4 linked regions of the Homo sapiens genome follow. The protein of the gene in region 1 purifies or fractionates together with the protein of each later gene. This does not show direct contact. Each region holds a gene or a part of one and is shown in the gene's direction. Other genes may lie near its edges.

What was found.
Region 2: the proteins of SLAMF1 (region 1) and SLC25A15 purify together in Homo sapiens (affinity purification with mass spectrometry; 2 studies listed by BioGRID and IntAct, with this or other methods). This does not show direct contact.
Region 3: the proteins of SLAMF1 (region 1) and RAB3B purify together in Homo sapiens (affinity purification with mass spectrometry; 2 studies listed by BioGRID and IntAct, with this or other methods). This does not show direct contact.
Region 4: the proteins of SLAMF1 (region 1) and ATP12A purify together in Homo sapiens (affinity purification with mass spectrometry; 3 studies listed by BioGRID and IntAct, with this or other methods). This does not show direct contact.

The regions. Positions count from the first base shown.
Region 1 is NC_000001.11:160,623,023-160,630,044, reverse strand, and holds part of SLAMF1 (signaling lymphocytic activation molecule isoform b precursor), read left to right. Parts: intron 1-5,859; coding exon 5,860-5,949; intron 5,950-6,459; coding exon of another isoform or gene 6,460-6,542; intron 6,543-7,022.
Region 2 is NC_000013.11:40,785,720-40,792,621, forward strand, and holds the start of SLC25A15 (mitochondrial ornithine transporter 1), read left to right. Parts: upstream 1-3,891; 5' UTR 3,892-3,944; intron 3,945-6,902.
Region 3 is NC_000001.11:51,987,686-51,995,157, reverse strand, and holds the start of RAB3B (ras-related protein Rab-3B), read left to right. Parts: upstream 1-4,457; 5' UTR 4,458-4,606; intron 4,607-7,472. UniProt on the Homo sapiens protein: The small GTPases Rab are key regulators of intracellular membrane trafficking, from the formation of transport vesicles to their fusion with membranes.
Region 4 is NC_000013.11:24,675,538-24,683,415, forward strand, and holds the start of ATP12A (potassium-transporting ATPase alpha chain 2), read left to right. Parts: upstream 1-4,870; 5' UTR 4,871-5,206; coding exon 5,207-5,215; intron 5,216-6,024; coding exon 6,025-6,183; intron 6,184-7,878. UniProt on the Homo sapiens protein: The catalytic subunit of a H(+)/K(+) ATPase and/or Na(+)/K(+) ATPase pump which transports K(+) ions in exchange for Na(+) and/or H(+) ions across the apical membrane of epithelial cells.

The DNA.
Region 1 (7,022 bases):
GCTGGCTCAGCACCTCTGAGTTAGCTCAGTGAAAGAAAAGGCTGACGCCTGCCAGTGAGCTCCGGAGGCTTCCCCTTTCTAACAAGGTCATTTCTTCAAATAGGGAGTTCCCATTGTTTCAGAGTCACTTAGATGTTCCAGGCACTAAGACAGGTCTCTCTCTAGGGTCTTCCCAATTTAGCGAGCGTAAAAACAATGGTGGAAAGGAAAAACCTGGAAACTTTGCACAGCCCAGAGCCTGGTCATGGGCCACACCCGCTATAAGGGAAGCTGAGACACATAGCTCCTAGCTGAGCAGCTACATGCCCAGAAAAGACTCGTATTACCACGAAAGCATGAGCGCAATCTCACTGGAGCTAGTAGCCTCTGCAATGCTGGGTGGGATAGGCAGGTTGTAAGTGATTTTTCTGGAAGCTGTGAACTCCGTAAAAATGTTTACTTGGATGGTCCCAGAACTTAAATTAGTATATGGTTCATGAGGATCCTTCCCCACCCCCAGTTCTGAATGGAAACTGCCACGAACAAGAATGTATCTCTTGAAGATGGCAGCCTTTGCTGACAGAACCACATGAAAGGCAGGAAGGAGATCCGGCACGCTCCCACCGTTACGCTAACGTCGCAGTATCTCCTAGGTGAACTGCATTTGTTTCTCAGATTCTTTTTAGTTTTCTTTTTCATCTTCCCTAAAAAAAATATTAATAATAAGATTTTGGGACTTGAGAAGAGAGAGAGAGAGAGAGACACGCTTCTGTGTTTCTGTGACAACACTTTCAGAGACAAGAAAAAAAACGCCCTCTGGCTTTTTCCTTGGATGTGTGACTGTCTGCCAAGTTATCACGTTTAAACCACAGACAATAGGTGGAGAGGGCCCAGGGTGGAGACTCGAGCAAAGCACTCTTCCCAAATGGCATGTGAGTTATTGACCAGCCTGCTCGGCCGCCTCTAAGAGCCTCGGGAGTAGGGGGAGTTCCAAACCTCTGGTTCAGAAATGTTCAGGTAGCATTTCTTTGTGAATGAAGGAGTCAGGAGCTTCTAGACCCCAAGACAACTTTGATTTCTCAGCATCACCATCCAGAGAGGCCTCACTACATGACTGAGCAAAGAGAAGAAGAGCTGGAGCTTCTGCCACAGGAAATGGTGGTTTGAAAATGGGAGCACAGGTGAAGCGCCGATGGCACAGACACACACTTGCCTCCTGGCTCCATCTTGTTATTGTAAAGTATAAGCCAAGTGGGTCACTTCTCCTTCCCTTTGATTCCTGCCTTGGGCCATTCAGCAGGTGACCCTGCATTCCTTCTGGTAATTTTTAAACAGAAAGCTACGTGACAGTCTTTTTCTAGATCCATTTTTGTGGACTCTCATTTAATTTAACTTAGTTCATCGAGTGCATATTGAGTGCCCTCCTGCCCTATATTGTTTCCGGTGGAATGGAGGATACAAATAAAGAATAAGGTACAGGGCCTACCTTCATGGAATTTGCAATCAAAGTGGGACTTCTACATCTTACTAGCTAGAAAAATATAATATTTAAAGAAACATATTATAATCAAGGAACTGCTACTAGAATTCCTCTTTGAAAAGGAATTGTATTTGTTTATGATAGTACCTTAATAAATGCTAGAAGGCAGGTGGAGACCCCCCAGGAATCTGGGTGTGGGTTGGATGGTTCTGTATGAGAATGGAGGAAGATGATACTTGTGCAGAAATGGGAAGAGAAAGAGAGAGTCTGAACCTGCTAGGTGGTGAAAGCTGCCTGGTTCACAATGGAATTTGCTCCCTGGGACCCTTCAATCTTCAGCAGAGAACTTAAACCCACAAAATTATTGGTGTAAGTTTTTAAAAAAAAGTTTTTTTGGTTTGTTTGTGGAAACTGATTGTATTAGTCCGCTCTCATCCTGCCAATAAAGACATACCTGAGACTGGGTGATTTATAAAGGAAAGAGGTTTAATTGGCTCATAGTTCCACATGGCTGGAGAGGCCTCACAATCATGGTTGAAGGCGAATGAGGAGCAAAATCATGTCTTACGTGGCAGCAGGCAAGAGAGTTTGTGCAGGGGAGCTCCCATTTATAAAACCATCAGATCTTGTGAGACTTATTCACTCCCATGAGAACAACATGGGGGAAACCACCCCATGATTCAATTATCTCCACCTGGCCCCACCCTTGACACATGGGGATTATTACAATTCAAGGTGAGATTTGGGTGGGGGCGTGGCCAAACCATATCACTGATGAAGTGACTAAACCTTGCACCCAAGGAAGCACAGAGTAGAGCAAGCAGAGTTATAGGAGCAAAGACTTAGAGAACCATGAGGAAATTACTCCCAGAAATTACAGAAATCATGTGCAGCTTGACCTGAACAAACTGTAATAGTAGCACTTTTTTCATACTTATCCAAATTTCTAAGAGCATGGGGTCTCTGACATTTGATTTCCATGTAAATATAATTAAAGAATAGCAACAAATGGATGAGCACCAAGTATAAAAATACTTGGGCCTACTATACAGGTAGGGAAACTAAGCCATAAGTAAAGAACAGATGGGACTGAAGCATCTCTGGACACTGGTGAAGAGACTCCTTTGGACTTAAGATCAAACTCATTTTCTTGTCTTTCCAATCAATCAACAAGAATTTACTGAGACTCTATTATGTACTGAGTACTAAGAGAGCTGTTAAAGTAGTGTAAGAGATGGTCTCTGGCCTCCTAGAACCTAGCAACTATTTGGAGAATTGAGGCTAGCAGAAGTAATTGACACTTACTGACCACATGATGGATTCCAGATATTGCTCTAGGCACTTTCCATACATTACTATATGGGTTTCTCAGAACAACACTGTGAACTTATTGTTATGCTCATTTTACAGATGAGGAAGTTGAAGCCACAGAGGGTATGAGTAGCTTATCTGTAGTCACAGAGCTATCAAGTGGTAGACCCAGAATTTGAACTTATCTATCTGGCTCCAAATACCATCACTGAAAATGGTCTGCATGGTAAAGATGATGTTGCCAAAACTCAGGTTCTAAGATACATGACATAAACCACAGGTGCTGCAGGAGTCCAAGGGACAGGGAAGAACAAGAGCTGGGATGGTCAGGAAAGGTGACACAAAGAAAGGAAGATTGGCCTGGGCATCAAGGCTAGGCAGGCATGGTGGACAGCTTAGGGTGCAGCAGGAAGGAGAGTATGGAGTGGAGCCTGGGGCCAGGAATGAGCATGTGTTGGATGGAGGATGATGAAGGATGGGTTGGCTGCTCAGAGGGCTTTTGACTCAAAAGGTTTGAGTCAAAAGGGCTTTGACATCACTACTGCCTTCTTTATGGGGACCGCATCTCCAGAGGCTAAAGCACAAACCACAAAATCTGCAGTTCCCATCTTATCCAGCTCTGCCACTGACTTTTTCTATGACTCTGGATACTCCTGTCTGTGTCTCAGTGTCCTCAAAATAAAATTAGTGGGTTGGGTGAAATAAGCACTATACTATAGTTCCCTTAAGGTTAAAAAGGTCTATGATTCATATTTGTATCCAAAGATGAGGAAAAAAATTAGAGTTTATGAAATATCTTTCAGGACCATGGCCAACTTGTCTCTCAGATCTAGATGGACTGGCAGAAGCTTGTCATAGGACAAAGGTAGCAGATTGCTTTCATCCTCTAGAGACCCTAGAAAAGATAGAGAGGGCCGGCGTTGTCATGTCCTGAAGCCTTGGTGCTGCACCCAGTCATCGTTAGTTTCTGTGAGTTGGTGGGCAGCAGAGCAACCGGCGTCGGGCGCGAGGGAGAGGAGGCTGACTCACCAGGCATTACTGGTGCAGTTTTGTCTTTTATTTTCCAGTTCAGAGGTACTACTTTGTCTGTTGGTTTTATTTTTTTAATCTCAAGTGAAATTGGAAAGAAATATTATCTTTTAAAATGATATAAATGGTGGGGGTGTTTCTTCTCAAATCAGTTGTTGTATTGGAAGTTCCCAAAGTATCTATGATAGAAGAAGAAAGAGGAACTAGTCAAAATAGTAAGTGCTACTATAATGGTTTGCTGGATCAGTTCCATAGGCTGACGAAACACAAAGTTCAGGCTACTGGCTTTGCTTCTTATCCTAGTATTAGAGTGATTTCTCCAGTGGTTCCTAGTGTCGATATCATAAACCTTGAATGAATCAATCTGTCTCAAACACACACATACACACATACACACACACACACACACACACACACACACTCCTGCACAGAGGGTTCTCAGTGACCATAAGTCACTCAGAGTGGAGCTGCTCCTTCCTCCAGCATCAGCAATGATTCAAAATGTCATGCTTTATACAAATTCAGAACTCTCTGCCTGCCTCCTAACTTTTTTTTTTAATCAGAGCATAAGACTGTTGAAGTTGGTATCTGGCAAAATTAAAACATTTAATTTAGGGGATAGAACCTATAACCAAGGTGTTTGCAAAGTCAGTTCAGTGAGATTCCTTGGGCTAACTTGATGTGTGAAAGGCCTAAGGAGAAAAAGAATCTTTTCAAATCCAGAAGGCAACTTCTTGCCAGCTATCAGGCTGGAGGCCCCTTTGGATCTTGTAGGCTGCATTTTATGAATTCATTGAGACTGTCTGTATCTTTGGTCAACTCTGTAAACATCTGATTGTGTCCACCATGATTCTTTCCTTTGGAACCCGACTATTTTTCTTTCAATTTCTGCCCCACAAATTCCTCACAGGTTCAACAACAAGCAGGCTTATTCCACAATCATCCTTATAAGTTTCCCTTACACATTAATGTTAACATCTGGTGTTACTCTATTTAGAACCTTAGTGCGAATATTCTACTTAGAACCCTAGGGCTTCAGCTCGGTCCCCACTGTTCATTACCCCGGTATAACTTTTTCCAAGCCCATAAGTCTCTCTAACTCTCCAAGAAGTCTGTCTTTAGTATTCAGCCACATTTCTACTACTAAACCAAGCTCTAGTTCTTGAGGTTCTCCAGGCTGTTTTCCTTCTCCATAAAATGAGAATAATGAGTGTACCTACCTTGTAAGATTATTGTGAGGATTAAATATGTTAGTACACATGATGCACTAAAAATATGTGGCCCATTGCAAGTGCTCAATAATTGTTCATTATAATCTTATTGAGCTACATGTCTTGTTTACTGGGGGTGATAATTCTCATTCACTGTTTGTCAAAGTGTTGCTCCTAGTTCAAAAGGATTTGATAAAGTGGGTAAAGGAGAGAAAACAATAAAAGTTTTCTCTCTGATTTTGAGCCTTGATGATTAGTTCTCGGGCTAATTTTAAACATGAAGATGATTTAGAGGAAAGACTAAATACTTTCCTTTCAGTTCAGGTCTGCTGGGTTCAACCCAGTTATTTGCATGAAAGGACAACAATAGCACTATTATGTTTATTTTTAAAAAAGATAAGTAGATCTTTCTTCCTCCCAGTGTCTCATGAGAATAGCGTGAATTCACAGGGACGGCACATGGAACCATTATATTCTCTTTACCCAAAATGGATACAGGACACATTAGCAATCTTAAGATGGAGAAACTGGGCAGAGAGATTGACTTAGGAGAGATGAAGATAATTTAATGTTAGACATGTGGTAGTTGAGTTAAAAATAAAGCATTTGGATAGAAAAATCTTCATGAAATTAAGAATGTGAAAGTATAGTGAGAGAAATTAGAATAAGAAAACAGATACAAAAATTTTCAGTGGTCTAAAGCTGACCTCTAAAACCATGAAAACAAACGTCTCCCTTGGGAGAGAATGCAGAAATAGAACATGAGGCTCCATTATCCCACTTTCATGTAAGATGTTTTTAAGCTCAGAATACTTTTGAGATTGCTCTTTGACTTCTTTTTTTTTCCAGAAACAAAACCATGGGCAGTGTATGCTGGGCTGTTAGGGGGTGTCATCATGATTCTCATCATGGTGGTAATACTACAGTTGAGAAGAAGAGGTAGGTGTCTGGCAATAAATAGATTCTTATCACACTCTCTGTGGTAAGCAGGGGACCTCTCTCCACAGGCTCGGACTTGCTCTCACAACTCTGGCTTTCTGCATGGGGCCACCTTTGCAAAAATAGTAGATAAACATATCCTGGGACCTTGCTTAATTCAGTCTAATTCAACATGTCTTGATCCCCTCTACTAGGCTGTGGAAAGAAATAGAAGAGCCACAGGTTTCTAATGTGAGAGACATTATTCAGATAATTTCAGTTTAGTGTGACTAGCACTGCCATCAGGGTAAACACAGGATGCTGAAGAAGTGAACAAGAGGTTTAAGAGTATTCACTGGGAACAGAATTCAGAAAATTATTGGATCTCATCCAAAAAGTCACCAGGGTTAGAATGAAACCAATAAGGCACAATTATTCCCCTGCAGTTGAAGTGCCTAGAGGTACCATCCCCTGTCCTCTCTTCCAAATTTCCCTATGATACAATATCTCAGGGCATTGTGCTCCCCTCAGCCACCTTGACTACTACCAACCAATACTGGAGTCAAAATGTCCTGACCCAAGACCAGGAGAGATGCCCCGGCTGCCTTCCCATGGTAAGGATAGAACTTGATCCTCATAACACTGAGCTGATGACTGATTTCATTCTCAAGTAGATCAGTGTCATCTACACACAACCTTCTTAGAAAAGCCCTTACCTCAGCACTCTGATGTTGGTTTTGCATATATAAAAAAATCTAGATCATAGCACAGCGACCTACTTGTGTCTCATTTCCTCCATCTAAGAGTTAGCCAGGTAGGAGGGATGGGTGATTCAGATAGAAATTAGGTTGACAGCCTATGGGGCTCGGGGTAGGGCAATCACATTTAGCTCATACTATAAGGAAATAGTGAGATGACCCAGGATGAGAAAACTGAACTTAACTTATCCACATTAACCTACCTAGTAAAATTGCTGGGATCCTACGCCATACTCTTTCCTCAACCACACTTGGCTTATCACATGGTTGTGCTCTAAGGGAATAGTGCTCCCCATCCCACAATTCCCCACTACCTTCCCCAACACACATACCCAT
Region 2 (6,902 bases), on another chromosome or scaffold:
TTCACCATATTGACCAGGCTGGTCTTGAACTCCTGACCTTGTGATCCACCCGCCTCAGCCTCCCAAAGCACTGGGATTACAGGCGTGAGCCACCACATCTGGCACCTCTTGCTTTTAATAAGAAGCCTCGGCTGGGCTCAGTGGCTCATGCCTGTAATCCCAGCACTTTGGGAGGCCGAGGCAGGCGGATCGCTTGAGGTCAGGAGTTCAAGACTAGCCTGGCAAACATGGTGAAACGCCATCTCTACTAAAAATACAAAAAAATTAGCCAGGCATGGTGGCGGGCGCCTGCAATCCCAGCTACTCGGGAGGCTGAGGCAGGATAATTGCTTGAACCCGGGAGGCAGAGGTTGCAGTGAGCCGAGATCGCGCCATTGCTCTCCAGCCTAGGCGACAGAGCAAGACTCCGTCTCAAAGAAAGAAAGAAAAAAAGCCTCTGGGAGGGAGCACTGCACAGTGTACCAGCTGAGCGCCTGACCTTTGGAGTTGGACAGAACTTTGCTGAGTCCCTGCTTTTCTCTTAGCGCCTGTGTAATGTGGCCTCCCAACACCTTGGTTTCTTCTCCAACCTCATTCTCACCAGCCATTGGGCTAGGCAAGGGGACACAGCAACTAAGTTGGACAGAAGACAAATAAATGAGAGTTTGTGCAAAAAACCCAAAAAAGGTAACTTTGTAGACTATGGATTAAAAATCTGAGCAAAATTCCGATAGTTTCTTATAGAACAAATTGGGAGGCATGGAGAGGAGAAATGTGGAAGGCTTGGGAGTGATGAGAGTTTGGAACAGCCCTTGTCAGGATAGGAGAGGAAGGGGCTCAAGGAAGACAAGAGAAAGCACTAGGCTAGGGCCCAATGGCTCGAGGAGAGTACCAAGCGCCCTGCATGGTGGACTGTTCCAGCAGGCTGATGGAACACAGGGGGTTCAAAGGAACCAGTGATGCAGTCATGCTGTGGCTGGGGTTTACAAAAGGCTAAGTGACTCACTAAAGGTCACACAGGGACATTTACACAAACATCCTGGCCCCAAGTCCAGTGCTCTTTCTAATCTATAACAGGGTCTTTCCTTTTTTTTTTTTTTTGACAGGGTCTTGCTCAGTCGCCCAGGCTGGACTGCAGTGGCATGAACACAGCTCAAGAGCTCTTGCCACAGCTTCCCCAGTAGCTGGGACTACAGGCATGCGCCACCACACCAGGTTTAAAAAAATTTTTTTTTGTTTTGATTTTTAGTAAAGACAGGGGCTCACTGATACTGTCATTGCAAAAATTATAACCAAGAAAATTATGATGGTCAAAGAGATCTGACCTAACTGACTCTATCTTGCTTCTAACCTCCAAACTGTCCTTGTTCTGGGTGTAGGCCCAACTAACTCTGGGAGGAGCTTAGATTATAGTTTAGCGTTGAAACAAAGACGACAACAGCCCTTTCCCAAAACAAACCCCCTTCCTGCCTGGGGACTAGGCCGCCTTGTAGGACTAACAAATTAGCCACAAGTTTACAAATTATGGTTTAGGAGTCATGCAGCTGGAGACTGCAAGATTCTAAACCTCCCCAAATAGCTCCTCAGGATGACATCACTATTGTAAAACCTAAGATCACAGATAAGATTGAGATATTTTTGCAGAGCCTGTACTTGATGGATTGATCAGCTGGCACTACCCAGATTGATAAACTGCCTCATCTGGTTTTGTGGCCCCCACCCAGGAACCGACTCAGCGTAAGAGGACAGTTTAGACTCCCTATGATTTCATCTCCAACATGACCAATCAGTACTCCCACTCACTGGCCCCCTACCCACCAAATTATCCCTAAAAACTCCAAACCCCGAATTCTTGGGGAGATTGATTTGAGTAATAATAAAACTCTGGTCTCCTGCACAGCTGGTTCTGCGTGAATTAAACTGTTTCTCTATTGCAATTCCCCCATCTTGATAAATTGGCTCAGTTGAGGCAGCGGGCGAGAAGAACCCATTGGGCAGTTACATCACTGTGTTGCCCAGGTTCAACTCGAACTCCTGGGCTCAAGCAATCCTCCTGCCTCAGCCTCCCAACATGTTGGGATTACAGGCATGAGCCACCACACCCAGCCAAGTCTGTCCTTAATCAGGGTTCCTTTGGGTCTCATTTTCTGAAGCTGCAAAAGCTATTGGACCAGGTGACATTGCCAACCCCTTTAAGCTGCTGTAACTGTAGTTTCAGCTGCTGGATCTGCTTTCAGTTAGTTATGTTCCCCATCACTTTGGACAAGTCATCCCAACTCCCTGGCTTGTTTTTGTAACTCGATTACAGTCCAGAAGCCCAAGTTCTAAAGTGCTGATTCTGATGAGTGTCCATGTACCAGGCACTCTGATCCCATCATAGCATCTACTACAGCCTGGGAGGTCTACTCAAGTGTGCATTCATGTTAAGCACTAACACCAATTAAATCACTTAAATAACGTAGGTAATTATCCAATAGCACATCCAGACGTGGTGGCTCACACGTGTAATCCCAGCACTTTGAGAGGCCGAGGCAGGCAGATCACCTGAGGTCAGGAGTTCGAGACCAGCCCGGCCAAGGTGGTGAAACCCTGTCTCTACTAAAAAATACAAAATTAGCTGGGTGTGGTGGCGCATGCCTGTAATCCCAGCTACTTGGGAAGCTAAGGCAGGAGAATCGCTTGAACCCAGGAGGGGGAGGTTGCAGTGAGCTGAGATTGCACCATTGCACTCCAGCTCGGGTGACAGAGTGAGACTCTGTCTCAAAAAAAAAAAGAAAAAAAAAGAAAAAAATAATAATCCAACAGCACATCTAAACAAGGCTTAAAGTTGTAAAATAAAATTACACTGTGTGGAGGGTGTGTGTGTGTGTGTGTGTGTGTGTGTGTGGGTGAGAGAGAGAGAGAGAGAGAGATGAGGTCTCTGTCATCCAGGCTGGAGTGCAACAGTGCCATCATAGCTCACTGCGGCCTCCAATTCCTGGCCTCAAGCGATCCTCCCGCCTTGGCCTCCCAAATAGCTAAGAATAGAGGCATGTGTCACCACACCTTTTTTTTTTTGTCGTTGTTTGTTTGTTTTTATGAAACGGAGTCTCGCTGTGTAGCCCAGGCTGGAGTGTAGTGATGCAATCTTGGCTCACTGCAACCTTCACCTCCCAGATTCAAGCGATTCTCCTGCCTCAGCCTCCCTAGTAGCTGGGGTTACAGACACGCACCACCACGCTGGATAAATTTTTGTAATTTTAGTACACGGGGTTTCACCATGTTGGCCAGGCTGGTCTTGGACTCCTGACCTCAGGTGATCCGCCTACCTCGGCCTCCCACAGTGCTGGGATTACAGGCGTGAGCCACCATGCCCGGCTAATTCCTGTATTTTCATACTTAGTTGTATTTCCTATTAGGGCCTTGGATCCCGAGTATAATTTTGTACTCAAATATAATTTATAAATAAGGCCTTAGCCTCCCAACAAGGTCAAAGTAGCTAAAAAGTAAGTCCTCCCAACCACTGACATTACCAGCCCCCAGCCCCCAGTCCCAGCCCAGCGGGCTAACAAGGGTCCGGCCTCAGAGAGGGTCTCGGGGATCCCAGAGGTGGGAAAGTCTCCGGAGGCGCAGGCCCCGCTCTCCACCTTCACCAGGGTCGGCGGCAGCACCACGCCGGGTCGCGGGCTGGCTGTGCGCGCCGCGGCCCCACGCCCACTTCCGCTTCCCGTGCTGGGGGCGGTGGCAGGGCCGGTGGGCGGTGGCGGCTCCCGGTCTCGGCTCGGGCACGGCCCTGGGCAGGCCGCCCGCCAGCCGCAGGGGCGCTCCTGAGCTTCGCGGGGCCGCAGTCCGGGATGCCTGCGCGAAGGGAGGGGCGAAGGGCCGGCCGTTGCCGACGTGGGTGTTAAGTGGCCGCCCCAGCCGGCGACCCGGAGCCGAGAGCGGGCGGCGGAGCCTGAGCTGGACGCGGCCACGCCGGCGCGGCGGTGAGCGCAGCCCGGTCTGGCGCCTGCAGCTGCGGGGAGCGCGCCAGGCAGAGGGAGCGGGGAGCGGGGCGCGGGGCGGGCCTCGGTGTGCGGGCGGCGTGACCTTCCCGAGCGGCGGGGGAAGCGGCCAGCGTCGCAGCGCACGTGCCGCGGGACTCGGAGAATCTCGGGGTTGTCGGCCTCCTTCCTGCAGTGCCCACCTGGTGGGAACTTTTGTCCTTGTTTGCCCCCAAGTCCTGTCATTTGGCTGCGGGGCTCCGCGCCTCAGGGGCGCCAGTGCTGGGCAGCATGGAGCCGCTTGTGAATGGAGACTTGCTGGCTGCCCAGGAGTGGGCGGCTGGGCAGGGGCGGTGAACGTTTAGGGTCCGGCCAAGAAAGTTGGAAGTCGTCTCCCTGACCTGTTCCTTGCGAGGCCCGGGAGGAGACGCGCCTGGCCGGTCCTTGGCGGCGAAACTGATTTGCATCTCCACGCTTTACCTAAAGCCCGGGCTCTGGGGACTGGATGGCGAGCTGGCCTGCGGCTCCTTTAGCCAGAAGCTGGGATCTTCCCGCAGCAGTTCGTGTTCCCTGGTGGAAAATGCAGCCTCATCTACTGACTCTCCCTTCCAAAAAAAAGTTATTTTCCCCAAGGGTCGAGAAAAGTGGGTGGTCGGCACTGTTGTTCCTCAGTTGCACCCTGGTGTAATTTGAGAGAGGGGTCAAAGGCGCTGAAAAGATTCTTTTTTCTATTCCAAGTGCTACAGCAAGCTCATAAATCAATTTTAATTCATGCTGAACAGTCTTGCCTCCTCCAAGCCCTGTGTCTTCTCCAAGCCAGAGCTACACATAATGTGAATTAGCTGCCCACTCCTTCTGAGTGAATCTGTTAGTACCCATCATCGTTTTCTATCCTAATAATTCTAATGGCTATTTGTAGAATTTATTTGTTTGTTTATTTTTTTGAGACGGAGTTTCGCTCTTGTTGCCCAGGCTGGAGTGCAATGGGGCGATCTCGGCTCACCGCAACCTCCGCCTCCTGGGTTCAAGCTATTCTCCTCCCTCAGCCTCCCGAGTAGCTGGGATTACAAGCATGGCCCACCACGCCAGGCTAATTTTGTATTTTTAATAGAGACGGGGGTTTCTCATGTTGGTCAGGCTGGTCTCGAACTCCCGACCTCAGGTGATCCGCCCGCCTTGGCCTCCCAAAGTGCTGGGATTACAGGCGTGAGCCACTGTGCCTGGCCTATTTGTAGAATTTAATGTGTTTAAGTTTGGCTCACCTAACAGGGTTTAATTCTTAGGGACAGATAGAATGTAATGTGATGTGACTTTCCTTCAAAATTAAGAAGGAAGTGTCTGTGCCAAAAGAAATAAGCGCATTGAGGTTTATCTAGGAGGCCACATTGTACTTGCCTCTGTCTGTCTGCTCAGTTGCCCCCGTTTTTTTCTTTCCCAAAAATATAGGGTTGGGTGTTTTGTGTTGCCTTTGGCCAGGTTGAAATACTCAGATTAACGGTTGGTTTGTAGGCACAGGCCTGAAAAGACAGGACTTTGAACTGAATCCTCTGTCACTGACAGTTGTGTGGCCTTGGAGAAGACCTTGTCTTGCTCCAGGCTTTAGTTTGCCTTCTGGGAAAGGATTAGGACCCTGATAAACTTTTTATTTATTTATTTATTTATTTATTTATTTATTTTATTTTTTATTTTCTATTATTATTATTATTTTTTTTTTTGAGACAGAGTCTCACTTTGTTGCCCAGGCTGGAGTCCAGTGGCACAATCTCGGCTCACTGCAACCTCCACCTCCCGGGTTCAAGTGAATCTTCTGCCTCAGCCTCCTGAGTAGCTGGGACTACAGGTGTGCATCACCACGCTGGGGTCATTTTTGTATTTTAAGTAGAGACAGGGTTACACCATATTCGTCAAGCTGGTCTCAAACTCCTGACCTCGTGATCCTCCCACCTCAGCCGGCCCAAAGTGCTGGGATTACAGGCGTGAGCCACCGCGCCTGGCCAGGACCCTGATAAACTTTTTTAGGAAGATACCAGATGGCCACCACCTTTTCAGCCTAGTGAATGGTCCTGTCTCTCCAGACCTATCAACAGCATATAAATCAGTGTCTTGCACTTCTAACTTAGTTGCTTTATTAAGTAATGTGCCGTTGTTGCCACTGGTTTTAAATTTTTTGTGAATAAAGGAGGATTATTGAAGTCTCGTCGTTGGCAAGATGCTTCAAGAGGTTTAAACAACTTCTCCACGGCCAATGTTTCCTGTTGACGTTCAGGGTGACATTGGTGTTAGGAGCGTGCTTGGTGTTCATCTCTGATCCAGCACGATGGGTCACACGGCTCCTCAGTGTGATGAGGAATAAGTTGTTCCTTATTATTTGCAAATAAGTTACTAACACCGTTTGAAAACTGTACAGGATTGGTCGTTGAGTTGGATATTTTAGTCAACATTTATTAAGCCCATGCCTCAACAGTAGTTGACTTTTGTCTAAAGAGAGAGAAAGAAATTCTAGTTTTCCCAAATGCCCAAGGCTCCAACCAAAACATACTGAATCCAGATTTCCAGAGGAAAGTCCTGGCAATTTGGATATTTAATAAGTGCTCCAGGTTATCAAGTGGATTTGGACACAACGGCCCAGGTGTTGTATCTCAAAGTGTGAGTCTGTGGACTGGCACTGTCCGCCTCACTTGGGAACTCATCAGAACAGGCAGAACCTCTGGTCCTGTCCAAGGCTACTGAATCAGAGGCCGCATTTTATTTAGCAAGGCCCCCAGGCTACTCCTGCACACGTTTACATTTGAAGGGCTGGTGGTCTGTGGTGACGGGAAGATGTGTGTGACAGGAAGATGCTTGCGCAGGGCCTTGTTCTAAGAACACATGATGCTTGTGCACGGTGTGGCGTCCCATCAGTCTGATGTGGCTATTTGTGACTGTGTTTGTTTTATAATATTTTTATTATTCACCTTGTAC
Region 3 (7,472 bases), about 110 Mb from region 1:
CCTGGGCAACAAGAGCAAAACTCTATCTCAAAAAAAAAAAAAAAAGAATTTTGTTTTCCTTCCCATTCTTCCTTGGGCATTTGGATCTGGAAGTGAAGACAGTCCAGTATAATTTGATTTGTGTTGTTCTTCCCTCAGGTGGTTACCTTAGTCAATAAGAAGGTAGCTTATGAGGGCATAAATGATGCAACCCAAATGTCAGATGTGGCCTCTCTGCCTCCTTTTTTTTTTTTTTTTTTTTTGAGATGGAGTCTCGCTCTGTCGCCGAGGCTGGAGTGCAGTGGCGCGATCTCAACTCACTGCAAGCTCCGCCTCCAGGGTTCACGCCATTCTCCTGCCTCAGCCTCCCGAGTACCTGGGACTAAAGGCGCCCACCACGACGCCCGGCTAATTTTTTGTGTTTTTAGTAGAGACAGGGTTTCACCACGTTAGCCAGGATGGTCTTGATCTCCTGACTTCGTGATCCGCCCGCCTCGGCCTCCCAAAGTGCTGGGATTACAGGCATGAGCCACCGCCCCCGGCTTTTTTTTTTTTTTATTTGAGACCAAGTCTGACTCTGTCACCCAGGCAAGAGTGCAGTGGTGCGATCTTGGTTCACTGCAACCTCCGCCTCCCGGGTTCAAGCGATTCTCCTGCCTCAGCCTCCCAAGTAGCTGGGATTACAGTCACCTGCCACCATGCTGGCTAATTTTTTTGTATTTTTAGTAGAGATGGGGTTTCACAATGTTGGCCAGGCTGGTCTTGAACTCCTCACCTCAGGTGATCTGCCGACCTTGGCCTCCCAAAGTGCTGGGATTACAGGTGTGAGCCGCTGTCTGGCTGCCTCTCTGCCTCTTCAAGATCCAAATGCAATGGGCTTGAACCTCAATATTCACATTTCCCAACTCATGTAAGTGCAAAGTCCTACACAAGTTTTTGCAAGTTCCACAAGGGCTTGTGGTCTCACAGTTACCTCTGCTTCCAGTCTCCTTTTTCAACTGAGACCTAACAAAGCACATTGCTCAACTCCCTACTCATGTACTCTCACAATTCCCCTCTCTCAAAAAGCGTTCCTGGGTGTAATAGCCCTTCCTGAAGTCTTGAGAGTCACATAGGATGGTCACGTCCTAGTGTAACAAACAACTTATCCCATTTTAGGTATCCCACTGCTGAAACACTCTTGTCAACTACCATGGGAGAGTTTCTTCTGACTCTTTACCTATGTAGCACCTATCCTTACATTGATTTTCTTACTCATCTTTTTCCTTTTCCCCTCCGATCTCTATTAACTTGCCCTCCCATTTTGTCAAGTGAATTCCAAATTTGCCTTCCCCCAACCCTCCCACCCCCACCTTTTTTTTTTTTTTTTTTTTGAGATGGAGTTTCACTCTTGTTTCCCAGGCTGGAGTGCAACGGCGCAATCTCGGCTCATCGCAACCTCTGCCTCCTGCTACCCCTAATTTTGTTTAGATGGAGTCTCACTCTGTTGCCCATGCTGGAGTGCAGTAGCACAATCTCGGCTCACTGCAACCTCCGCCTCCCAGGTTCAAGTGATTCTCCCGCCTCAGCCTCCCGAGTAGGTGGGAGTACAGGCGCCCACCACCACGCCCGGCTAATTTTTGTATTTTTAGTGGAGACAGAGTTTTACCATGTTGGCCAGGCTGGTCTCGAACTCCTGGCCTCAGGTGGTCCCAAAGTGCTGGGATTGCAGACGTGGGCCATCATGCCCCACCTACCCCTACTCCCTTTTTAAACATAGAGAGCAATTTCTTCTCCCAAAGTTACGTATTCACTCTCATCAATTGAGGCCCCAAGCAGGACAAAAGGACTTTCTGTGCATTGGGATCTGTCATTCCTGGAAGGCAGTTGTGGTTTAAAAATAGCACTTTTTTTTTTCTGTTATACGAAGCACAGTGTTTCCTATTTGTTGAATGCTTACTGTATGCCTACCACTCTATCAAGTCCTCTCCAGTAGCTTGTGTTCTCATTTGATCTTCCCAACAACTCTGAGAAGCAGCTCTTATTATTGCTCTTTCTACAAATAAGGAAGGGGTGTGCGTGCGAGAGAAATTAGGTAATTGGCATAAGATCACACAGCAAGCAAGGACTGAAGACCAGGTCTGCCTGGCCCCAAGCCTGTGTGTGCCCTTTCTAATTTACTATACCGCCTTTCAGAGGAGGGAGAAGGAGAAAGCAACCAGAAGAACTGAGGCTACATAAAAGCAATACCATCTGTTCTCATATTGTCTCACAACTTTAAAAGGATGGCTCTATATGCTGTCTCATTATTCCTAGGAAGAAAGAATAATCATTATCATCTCGTCTATTTTGAAATGAGGGAAGTAGGGCCTTGTGAGAGAAAGAGAGTGAGGGAGCAGTTCAGCGTAGCATGTTTGATTTTGCTATTACAGAGGTACCAGCAGTGGGTGATTAAGAGCTCAAGAGTGACCATGGGAGCTGGTGGCCAAGGTGATGTGGAGGACAAGGACTGAGGGACCAGGAAATCTCATAGCTACTGAAGTCACCAGGAGGATGGCAGGACAGGGGCTAGTGAGGATGACCATGAGCCAGGGGCTGCAATCTGTAATGCATAAGGAGCAATTGGGGGGTCAGTGATGAGGAGGGGTTGAGGGGGGTATGGCTGGAGAGCACAGAAGAAAGAATTTTTGCACAAGGGTGGAAATGGCCATGCCATCCCCACATCCTAGTTTTATAGTATATGGGGAGTGGAAAAATGAGAAGCCTTCTAGCAGAGGGCAGCAAAGGAGGCAGTACCTGGAGGAGGCTCAGGCAAAGAAGTCACCTGAGTACTCTGAAGAAGCAGAGGGTATAGCAGAGTTTGTTGACAAAAGAACAGGATTCTAGAAGGCACAGAGGAAAGAGCTGCCAGTGTGATGGGCAGTGTGAGTGAAAGGGCTGGGCAAGAAGCTCAGAAGAGTAAGCGTCTGAGGCAGAGGCCAGACAAGCAGAGGAGCTGTCAGCTTGGGTGGTTCCTAGGCTGGAGATGTACACTGTAGACAGGGTCATAATGGAACTTGGGGGGAAAATGGTTTTGGTATTTGACTCAGACCTCTAAGATCTGAGATGGGGGAGAAGTGTGGGGAAAGACAATGATTCTAGAGCAAGCCTTCAGCTGGCTCCTGTGACCTCAGGAAGACTGGAAGTCCATATCAGGATTTGAGGGTGGGGTATTTATTGCCTCCTCTATCTGCCTCCTCTAGTGGAAGTGGGACTTCCTAGGGCCAGGCCAGGCAAGAACATTTTTCTACTCCTGTTGACAGCCTCCTGGTAATGGGAAACCATTGAGAGGTTTTTGTTTGTTTGTTTGTTTGGTTTTTGATGGAGTCTGGCTTTGTTGCCCAGGCTGGAGTGCACTGCTGGAGTGCAGTGATCTCGGCTCACTGCAACCTCTGCCTCCTGGGTGCAAGCAATTCTGCCTCAGCCTCCCAAGTAGCTGGGACTACAGGCATGCACCACCATGCCCGGCTAATTTTTGTATTTTTAGTAGAGACAGGGTTTCACCATGTTGGCCAGGTTGGTCTCGAACTCCTGACCTCAAGTGATCTGCCCACTTTGGCCTTCCAAAGTGCTGGGATTACAGGCGTCAGCCACTGTGCCTGGCCGAGAGTTTTCTTAAACAAGGTTGATGGTAACATGGTGACATTTTTTAAAGGGTTGCTCGGGCTTGTGTCAAAATGATTTTGGTATCTGACTCAGAATGAATGGGACCAGGAAGTCTCACAGCTACCGAAGTCACCAGGAGTATGGCAGAACAGGGGCTAGTTAGGATGACCATGGGCCAGGGGCTGCAATCTTTAATGCATAAGGAACAATTGGGTGTCAGTGATGAGGAGGGGTGGAGGGTGGTATGACTGGAGACCACAGGAGAAAGAATTTTTGTACAAGGGTGGAAATGGCCATGCTGACACCACGTCCTGGTTTTATAGGGTGAATTGGAGAGTGAAGGCAGGAATTAGGAAGCTGTTGCATTAGTCCAAGCAAGAAGTGATGATGCTGGAGTCAGAACAAGGGCAATGGAGACACAGAGGAAGGGCAGGGATATGTTAAGGCGGTGGGATGTGGGGTGTGAAGGAAACACAGATAGGGTAGAGGACAGCGTCCAGGTTTCTGGCTTGGTTTCCGCTTGTAGTCAGCCTCCCTCTCTGGGCTTTTGTGAAGACGGAGCCATAGAACGGACCGGACCAGAAAGCAGTTTGGAAATGGCAAAACTGCTACCCATCATCAGCTACATTATCATCAAAGCTCTCTAATTACCCTAGTAAGTTCAGTCAATGGAACGAGGCATGACAATTAAGATAAATCACGAGAGTCACCCAGACATGGGGGACCTGGAGGTCCTGAGTCACCTCGGATTACACCTGCTAGGAGTTGAGGGCCGGGGCGGGGCGAACACAGACTCCGCCCTTGGGCGGGGCCTGGATGCGGCCGGAGCGGAGCAGTGCTGGAGCGGGAGCCTCAGCCCTCAGGCGCCACTGTGAGGACCTGACCGGACCAGACCATCCCGCAGCGCCCCGCCCCGGCCCCCTCCGCGCCCTCCCGACGCCAGGTCCTGCCGTCCCGCCGACCGTCCGGGAGCGAACCCGTCGTCCCGCACTCGGAGTCCGCGGTAAGGGGCGCGGCCCCGGCAGCCCGCCCGCGGAGGATCAGGGACCGATCCCCGGCGCGGGGCGCTGGGCACCGAGAGCGGGCGCCGAGAAGGAGCGCGGGGCAGCGGAAGGAAGCCGGGGGAGGAGCGAGGGAGGGGGCTCCGCGGCGGCAGAGGTGGGGCTCACCTAGGGAGGGGGCGCCGAGGGGGTCTCCCAGACGTTGGGGGCAGCCGGGGGAGCTCCAAGGGCGGGAGGGGAGCAAGAAAGACGGCGCTGGGGCTGGGAGGAGAGATGGGGGGCAACTGGAGGGCAGTGAGGGATCGCTGGGGGAAACGGGGGCGTGGGGGGCGGGGGAGCTGCGAGGAGGGCGGAGTGGGGCTGTGCGGAAAGGTGGTACCGGGCAGCCGAGGGGCAGCGAAGGGGGCGGTGAAGGGAGCGGACTGAGGGGAGCTAGAGCGGGGGTGCGGGGGGAGGCATGGAGGTGAGGAGCTGAGGGGAGGGGACTGGCTGGGCGGGGGTCGTTTGGAGCTGGAGGGGACTGAGGTGCCGAGGGCAAGGGGCGCTGGGCAGCTGGGGAGTGTCTGGTTGGGAGAGGGTCGGGGGTGGGGATGTGGGTATGGATAGCTGGGAAGGAGAAAGGCAGCAGGGCAGTGTCTGGTCGAAAGAGGGTCATTTATGGGGGATGTGGGTATGGATAGCTGGGGTCGGAGGTTGAGCCCGGCTGGGGACCGGCGTGGGGGTAACTGTAGATGGAAGACGAGGGGTGGGGCTTGGGGGCGGGAAGCTTGGGAGAATGGAAGGGTGAGAGGCCAGGTTGGGTCTACCCTGCTGCAGAGGAAGGGGGCAGGGAGCCGGTGGAGACACAGGGAAGTGGCCTTGGAAATGGACACAGGGGCCTACATTCTGGTCAGGAGTGGAGAGGAGGCTCTGGAATAGAGTAGGGTCTGGCGGCTGCAAGTGGAGGAATCGTGGGAGAACTTGGAGTGTATAGATAGGGTGGTGGGGCGCTGGGTCAGCCTGGGGAGGAGGCCAGGTGTGGGTCGTGGTGTAAGGGTGGAAAGGTAATGGGGGCTGGAGTGGTGTCCACGCACTAGCGGTGTCTCGGCCACTCAGGAGTCCAAGGAGGGGACCCAGGCACTGGACCTTGTTACACGGGCACCGGGGATCACAGAAAATAAGAGAATCGTGGACAGAAAAAGTCATCCAACTCTGTTCTGTAGTCCAAGCATGGAAGCAACTTTGGGGAGGGCAGGGCAGCAGCCTTTGGAAGCTAAGAGAGATGTGGAGGAGGTGGGAGAAAGATGGGCCCTCAAAACACACACACACACACACACACACACACACACACACACACACACACACAAAACAAGATGGGCCCTCTTCCCCCGGCTTCCTGGAATCCAGATGGAAAGGGGTGGGAGACAGTAAAAGGAGAGGATGTGTGTGTGTGTGTGTGTGTGTGTGTGTGCGCGCGCACAGGTGGGTGTCCACCTGTTCTGTGCCTATAAACAGAGGAAGACAATGGAAGCCGTGAAAGGCCCTATCTATAGAAGTGGAAAGCCCTGGTGCCCTGTGGGAGCCAGAGAAGAAGCATTTTGGGGGAGGTGGGTGGGTTGGGGAAGCCTTCCTGGTCATGAAGGATTTAGCTAGCAGTGGAGGAAAGTGTGTTCCTATCAGAGGAAACCGTATGGGAAAAGGCAAAAATCTAAAAGCATCTCCAGTCCAAGAAATAGATCTTCAGTTTCTTAAAGATTATGACATGAAGGGAGGCATCAGTAACCTATACAAAATATTTAAATAGATTTCCCCTCTAAGCTTGAAGCTCCTAGGGTTTCTCTCCATCTCCCTAAAGTATAGCACAGGTCCTGGTGCATAGTAGGTGCTTGGTGAATGTTGATTGAATGAATAATTGGTGCTCCTGCCTCAATTTCTTCATCCATTCCCAAGAATTGTTGTGAGAATCAAATAGGATAATGTGGGTGAAAAGAACTTTGTAAACTGTAAAACAATGTACAAAGAGAGAGGCCACTGATGTTATTCTGCAGGTGTTCCTGTTTTGTCAGTGGACACACCCATGGCTATCTCTTTCCAATCTGGAGGAGGAAGGAAATGAATATCAAGCATCTGTTGGTGCAAGATGGAATGCTTTGAAAGCATCTTGTAGAATGCTAGACATTTAGTAGGTGCTCAATAAATGGTAGCTATTGTGATATTGTTTCTGTGGCTCTAGGAGACCTGGGAAAACAATGAGAAGGTGGTGATGGGTCAGCAGTGGGGAATGGTCTAAAGACAGATTGAATTAGAAAAGTAGAGTATGGCTTAAAGGAGGATGAGGTCCACATTTGCCCAACTCCCTTCTTATTCTCACTGAAATGCTCCAAGTAGGAAGACAGGGAATTACATTATTGAGCCCCTGCTATATTGCATATACAGTTGACCTTTGAACAGCATGGGTTTGAACTGTGTAGGTTCACTTATACCTGAATTTTTTTTTTCAACCAAACACTGATTAAAAAAAATACCATGGTGGGTCAAGCGCAGTGGCTCAAACCTGGAATCCCAGCTATTTGGGAGGCTGAGGTAGGAGGATCGCTTGAGCCCAGGAACCTGAAGCTACAGTGAGTTATGATCAGGCCACTGTACTCCATCCTGGGAAACAGAGTGACACCCATCTCTTAAAAAAGAAGAAAAAGAGAAGAAAATACAGTAGTGAAGGGAGGTGAAGTCTGTATATTCAGAGGACCAACTTTTAGTCTAGGTGGGTTCCACTGGGCCAACTGTGGTTCTTGAGTAGGCGTGGATTTCGGTATATATGGGGGTCCTGGAGCCAATCCCTTGCCTATACCAAGAAATTACTGTACTATTCTAGATGTATAACCCACATTA
Region 4 (7,878 bases), on another chromosome or scaffold:
GGGACTTGGGGGAATGGAGAGATGTAGGGCAAAGGACCCAAAGCCGCAGATATGTGGGGTGAGAAGTCTAGAGATCCGAGGCCCAGCATGAGCCCTATAGTGGCAACATTGTATTAGATCCAGGAAATGTGCACAGAGTAGATTTTCCATGCTCCTATCACACAGGCCCTCTCCCCGCCACCCCACACACAGAGGGTAACTGTGGGAGGGGATGGATATGAGAATTTGCTTGATAATCATAACTATCTCACTGTGCATAAGTATATCAAAATATCATGTTGTACACTTTAAATATAATAAAAAGCATCTTATTACACAACATAAGTCACAGGGAATGAAAACTGTGGGAACCTAAAGTACCCCAGCCATTGTGACATTTCGGGGGAGCTGTACCCACAGAAGGAGAAGGTGTGCCTGTCTGAGCCCCTCACAGGCCCGCACCTGCTTCTGGAAACGCCACTGCTGATTCCCATCAGTCATGGTGTTTACAGCTCCAGGCAGGATCATCACTGGAGCTGACTTGCTAATTTCTGAAAAGCCAGTATTTCTTTTCTGGAGGATGTTCATATGCCAATCTCAGGATTTCCTGTGCATGAAGAAATGAGGACACAGTGTGGAAGCGTGCTTGCCTGAAGCTTTGTTTTGTTTTTTCATCCTGGCTCCAACCCCAGGCGGCCCTCCTCTCGTCGGGAGAGGAACACTGGCCGAGTCACAGCCAGTCGTGCTGACTGGATACAGGTGCGTAGGGAGGGCTCCAGGTGGGGACTGTCCCATGTGTAGGAGAGGAATCCAGGGACAGGGAGAGGCCGAGTGGGCAGCAGAGGGACAGGCCAGTCGGACGCAAAGCAGGAAGTGGAGCTTCCTCTTCCCATTGTCATCTGGATCCTCCCGCTCCGTGTGGGGATCCTCACAGTCACACCTCTTTGAGCCAGCTGGTGGCCAGCCTGCGCACAGGAGGGACCTCCTGGGGTCCCCAAGGGAAGCCACACACACAAGGCCCCAACTCAGCTGCTCTCCCAGACTCTCTCCCCACTTTCTTGGCGGGTGCAAAGGGATGGAAAAAAATCTGAATAACTAATCCTAAGTAGTACAAGTTATGCCATTTCCCCCAGAGAAACCTCTTTCCTCTAAACTCTGAAGGCACTTAGAGCCCATACCAGTTAGTGCTAAATTATTTTCCCTTTTGGCCCGTTTACTATTGGTTCTTCACTAATTTGGTCTCTCCAACTCAAGTCCAACTTCCTAGAGGGCAGAGGATGGCATGATTTTAGTACCATATCTCCCCACCACCCCTATATCTAGTACAGCTTAAATACATGAAGTATATAATTTAATTAAAACAGGCTGAAAATACATATATCATGACATCCTATCCCAAATATATAATGTTCGTCAATATGAGCAGGTATAATAGAGAACCTTGGCGTGGATAGGCTTGTTTTGAAAAGCAGCAAAACCTCAAGCAGAAGCTGCTACTAGCACATGTGGGCTGAGGAAGTCTCCCGGCTGCAGCCTGGCCTCTATGGCCAACCCTCTAGGAGCCATTTGCACTGGGTGGGATCAGGGTACATTGCTCAGAACATTGTGGGTGATGGCCCTGGGACCGAACGTGTCTCAGGAGAAATCCAATTCCTGATTCTACAGGTAAGTGCCTCCAGATGCCTGCATCACAGTTACCCAGGGCCTACCCACCTCAAGGCAGAGTCGGGTATCCAGATGACTAGAGGCAGCAAAGGACACGATTCTGGAGTTAGGGTTGGGGAATGGCCCCATTTTCCTTCTTTGGTAGAAGTCAACACTCCAGGACACCTGAATGGCACCAGAGGCTGCCACAAGGGCCATAGCAGTGACAGCTGAGACTAGTCCCTGGCAGAAGCCAAGAACTCTGCAGGATCAGAGAGGTGCCAGAGAACCTGACCATGGAAATGTTTTTGTCCTGCTTGTAGTAATAAACCGTCTTCCACCCTTGATACCAAAAGGAATAAGCAGCAATCTTGGGCTCAATGGCTCACACCTGTAATCCCAGTATTTCTGGGGCAGAGGTGAGCGGATCGCTTGAGCCCAGGAGTTGGAGGCCCGCCTGGGCAACATGGTGAAATCCCTTCTGTACCAAAAAAAACCACAAAAATTAGCTGTGCCTGTAGTCCCAGCTACTCAGGAGGCTGAGGTGGGAGAATGGCTTGAGCCCAGGAGGCGGAAGTTGCAGTGAGCTGTAATCACACTGCACTCCATCCTGGGCAACAGAGCAAGACCGTCTTAAGAAAAAAAAAAAAGCGGCAATCTTCTCCAAGGATCAAGGGAGGGTGCCATCAGTTAGTACTTTCTAAAGCTGTGTCACCATCTCTTTTTAGCCCACTTCCCCTCCCCGCTCCCCATCCCTCAGTCAAGTCCCTAGGATCTGAGTTTGCTTTTGGAGCTTGAACTGGCCTTGAGCTCAGAGACATCTCTCTGCGGACCCTGCTTCTCTATTCTACATCTGTCCCAATAGTTGGAGCAGGGGCTGGAACAGCTTAAGGTGAGCAGCAGCCACCTGTTCCCAAAAAACCCTTAGCTTGGATTATCAGCAGACAGTGGAACATCAGTTTCGTACACATTTTGTATTTCTCACCCCATCTGCAAACCTTTCCTTTGAAGAGTATTCCAAGAATGGAACCCAGAGCTCCCCAGAAGCACACTGTTGCTTGGGTTTGGACTAGAATTTAATGTTCCCTCCAACTCTAGAGAATCCATGATGTGTATCTTTACACCAGATGCCACTAGGAGTCTTCCTGTCCCTTATCATTTTAGTTAAGAAGTGACTCATTGCTGTCATCCTTGCTTCACAGAGGGAGGAACCCAGGCTTCAGATTCTGCCCTTTTGGAACGGAAGAAGGAGGGAGAGCGGGGAAAGACCTATGTGTGCAGCACTATGGAGACAGTTCACTATGTCGGGTACAACACATTCCCTTAGTCTCATTTGAAAGCCATGATGAACAGAGAGGTGTGGAAAATCTAAGATCACAAATATGCCATGAGAAAGTATCTTTGTCTCTACTGCTACTTTACAAAACCACGTCTCTAACTGCTAACACTTCAAATTCCCTCAAAATAAGCTTCTTTTCCCAATTGTCCCTCACCACCAACTATAGTCATGCTCTGAAATTATTATGGAAATTTAGCATCTGAAAGGAACAGGAAGTTATAATTAATTCCTAATTAGAATTGGGCACAAGCTTTTTTTTCTTATTTTTTTTTTAATTTTTTTATTGTGACAGAGTCTCGCTCTGTCGCCCAGGCTGGAGTGCAGTGGCGCGATCTCCACTCACTGAAAGCTCCACCGTCTCCCGGGTTCATGCCATTCTCCTGCCTCAGCCTCCCGAGCAGCTGGGACTACAGGCGCCCACCACCATGCCCGGCTAATTGTTTTGTATTTTTAGTAGAGATGGGGTTTCACCGTGTTAGCCAGGATGGTCTCGATCTCCTGACTTCGTGATCCGCCCGCCTCGGCCTCCCAAAGCGTTGGGATTACAGGCGTGAGCCACCGCGCCCGGCCGGGCACAAGCTTATTGTTTTTCTTCTACCTTTTCTAAATGTACCCAATGCTCTTCATGTTTTCTGCCAGATGTTCTAGTCACTGCATGATGGGATTGTTACTTTTGCTGCTTCTCTGGACTCCTCACTCTTAGTCATTTTAAATATGGTCAAAATGACAATCTTTCTTACCATATTTGATATATAACTTTCAAAAAGAATAAAACTTAGCACCCTCCTATTAGTCCTTATCTAAATGGAAACTTATTAGCAGAGCATCAAGGGCCCAATAAAGTGCCCCCTCTTTTGAAACTTATCTCTACTCCCTTTCATATATTTCAATCATGTCAATTTCTTATTGTTCTTCTAAATAGGTGCTGATTACTAAACTCTATTCGTGGGTTTTATTTTTTATGTTCCTCTCCATTAATTAATATTCTTCACTGACTTTAAGACTTCACGATTCATTCTTTTAAAAGAACGTGTTTGATTTCCTCCACTGTTAACTGCTAAATATCTCTCTGATATATTGTTTTCAGGCTATCTTTCTCATCTGGAGTAATTATGTTTCAAGTGTCAGGGGGAAAATACCTTTTCTATCCTGTGCAAAAACTCATGCTGGGCACTAAGAGCATGGAGCATGTCCCAGTTATCTATTGCTGCATAACAAACCAACCCAAACTTAGCAGTATAAAACAACCACTGCTTTAGTATGCACATCAACTTTCAGGGTCAGAAATTCTTTTCTCCTTCATGTATAGAGTCTCAGCTGGGAGTGACATAAATAGGTGGAGACAGACCTCTCCAGCCCAGTCCAGCCAACAGCCTCCGCTCCTGCGCACCCGCAGCCTGGGGCCCCAGGTTCCTGTGGTCTCACCGACCCTAATCCTCTCATCTCTCCTCCCCATTCCCTCTCCAAATTGTTTCAGAATTCCAAATTCTTATCTGGATCCGGCAAATTAATTCAGCTACTCTTCAGAGTCTCTCAGTTATTCCCAAATTCTCTCGGAAGCTTGAATTTACCTATCTAAATCCATTCTCAAAAACACATTGGCCTTTTCTAGCCGGGACATCTCCAACAGTAGTTGCTGTTAGAAACTGCAATTTCCCCTTCTCTGCATACACATTTTTATAAATTGATTTATTGGTAGGCAAATTACATTTTTAAAAAAAGGCATGTGTGGGTTTTCAGGGAAGCCTGGACAGGACGTGGGCGTGCCGGGAGCTCGCCGGAGCAGCTGGTCCGGCTCTGGGCGCCCAGCGGAACCAGGGCTGTACTCACCTGGATGCCGGACCCGCCCCCTAGAGACCCCGCCCCCTGGCGTTCGGCTACTAAAGGGAAGGGGATTCCCAGGGGGTCCTCAATCCTGGACTCTCCCGACCCCTAGCTGTCGGTCCCCCTCCCTGCGCGCGCGCCGGCGGGTTTCCTACCCTCCGAGGCGTCCGCTGGCCTGCGCCCTGGCGGGGACGTGGGCGGGGCGGGCGGCATTTAAGGCTGGTGCCACCTCCCCGGTGCAGCGGCTGGCGATCGGCCGCGGAGGTGCGTGCAGGGCCCGCGCCGCCGCCGGTATCTCCACCGCCAACACCTCAGCCACTGCCACTGCCACAGCCACACGAGGCCCCCCACCGTGCGCTCCGCCGCTGCGGTCCCGGATCCGCGCTCCACGCCCGCAGCCCGCGGCGCCACCAGCCCAGCATGCACCAGGTGCGTGCAGCCCCCGCGCCGGCCGAGGATGCGAGACGCTGGGCCAAGGCCCCGGGGACCGGAGCAGGCTGACGGGAAGCGAGGAAAAGGCGAAGAGGAGAAACGCCCCGTCCCGGGGCAAGGGGAGGCCGCCTTTCCTCTGAGCGCCCCCCGGCCTGGGCACCGCTTCTCTGACTCCCCGCCACGGCTCCGTGCGGCCGCCGGGGCTGGCTGGGGAAAGAAGCCAGTCCAGAGGAGCGAGAAGGGGCCAAGGGGTCCTAGGCCAGCTCCATGGCACCTGCGGGCTCCGACTCGGAGGATGGGGTGACATGGATTCGTTGCGGTCTGAAAAGACTTCCGGTTAGGGCCCCCTGATCAGGACTGAGGGTCGTAAGCTTAGTGGGTGCCTCCTCCCCAAGAAACAGGACGCACAGCTGTTGTGTCCCCTGGGAAGGACACCTCAGAGGAAACCTCGAGGTGCCTAAGGAACCTCGAGGTTCTAAGGAAACCTCACAGCTCCTTGGAGGCATCAGTCAGGAGTTGGGGGGGTAACTTCCCACCTGCTCCACCCAGAGAAGGGTCACCCTGAGGAGCTGCTGGCTGGCCTGTGCCCACCCCGCCTCCCCTCTACACGGACGGAGAGGAAGCCAAGGTCGGCGGGAGGTGGGGGAGAGACTCCACTGTCCGACTCCCTCCGGCCTCCCCAGAGGAGGGAAGGAAAGGGAGAAGGGGCTCCTGACTCCTGCAGGTCCTGACCCCGCAGAGGGGCGCTCAGCACCTCTTCGGAAACCCCATTTGGGGCCAATATTGCACCTGGGCTTCTCTTTCAGAAAACCCCAGAAATTTACTCCGTGGAGCTCAGCGGAACTAAGGACATCGTGAAAACAGACAAGGGGGATGGCAAGGAGAAGTATAGGGGTCTGAAGAACAACTGCCTGGAACTCAAAAAGAAAAATCACAAAGAGGAGTTTCAGAAAGAACTCCATCTGGTCAGTAGCCTTAAGCCACGGGGTCCTGCCGGCTATGGCCCTTCCCCGCAAGAGCTTGCCCCTAGAACCCACCTCTTACCACAGACATTCAGTCTGAGGGATTTGAAATCCCCTTGAGATTGTGTGTGGTGTGTGGTGTCTGCGTGGTGTGTCTGTGTGGTGTGTGTGTGTGGTGTATGTGTGGTGTGTGTGTATGTGTGGTGTGTCTGTGTAGTGTGTGGTGTGTGTGTGTATGTGTGGTGTGTGGTGTATGGTGTGTGGTGTGTGTGTATGGTGTGTGGTGTGTGTATATGGTGTGTGTAGTGTGTGGTGTGTGTATGTGTGTGGTGTGTGTGTATGGTGTGTGTGTATGGTGTGTGTATGTGTGGTGTGTGTGATGTGTGTGTGATGTGTGTGTGGTGTGTGTGTGTGGTGTGTATATGTGTGTGGTGTGTGTGTGGTGTGTGTATGTGTGTGGTGTGTGTATGTGTGTGGTATATATGTGTGTGGTGTGTGTGGTGTGTGTATGTGCATGGTATGTGTGGTGTGTGTGTAGCGTGTGGTGTGTGTGTAGTGTGTGGTGTGTATGTGTGGTGTGTGTATGTGCATGGTATGTGTGGTGTGTGTGTAGCGTGTGGTGTGTGTGTAGTGTGTGGTGTATATGTGTGGTGTGTGGTGTGTGTGTGGTGTGTGGTGTGTGTATGTGTGTGTGTGTGTTTTGAATGGTGTGATAGTATCCACCCAGAGGTCAGGGCCTCTGCAGGATTCCTGCATTCTGGTTGGAGGCAGTCCCTGTAGAACTCAGAAGGAAGAGCCTCTGATTCCAGGCCCCACAGGCATGGCCAGACCTCTCTCCCCGCAGCTGCTTCAGTGAGAGTTAAGTAACCACTTGCCAGTTTTCAATTGATTAGTAAAACTATTTGAGCTGGAACTTCTGAGGAGGAAAACCAAAGCCCCTAGGCCATGCTAGATTGCAGGTGTGAAACCTCATGGAAAAGCAGTTTCAGTGGTAAAAATGTGGAGCTTGGATTGGGAGGACCTCGGGCCCCATCAGAGTCCCACTTCTCCACTGAGCTGAAACTGGCAACAAATGACTGACCCTCACTGAAGGTCCATTTCCTTTATGTAAAATGGGAAATAAATAATTTGCTGGGGTCTATGAGGGGAAAAAATGAGATGAGGATTTTGTAATTCACGTGCTTTAGGGGAGTACAATATTATTATTATTAAGGAAGAGCTCTGGAGTTATTAAAACTAGCCTTTTTTTTTTTTTTGAGACAGAGTTTCGCTCTTGTTGCCCAGGCTGGAGTGCAATGGCGCTATCTAGGCTCACTGCAACCTCCACCTCCTGGGTTCAAGCGATTCTCTTGCCTCGGCCTCCCGAGTCACTGGGATTACAGGCGCCCGCCATCACACCCAGCTAATTTTTGTTGTTTTTAGTAGAGACGGGGTTTCCCCATGTTGGCCAGGCTGCTCTCGAACTCCTGACCTCAGATGATCCACCCGCCTCAGCTTCCCAAAGTGCTGGGATTACAGGCGTGAGCCACTGTGTCCAGCCCAAACTGGCCACTTTAATAATAAAACTGCCTTGGGTCTGAAATGTGACAGATTTTATCTTGGGAACACCGAAGGGGAAACTTCTACACGGAGCTTGAGATGGGCTGGATTGTCCCCACCGTCCTTGGCAGATCTTAAAGCTCTGTGACTCCTGAGGGG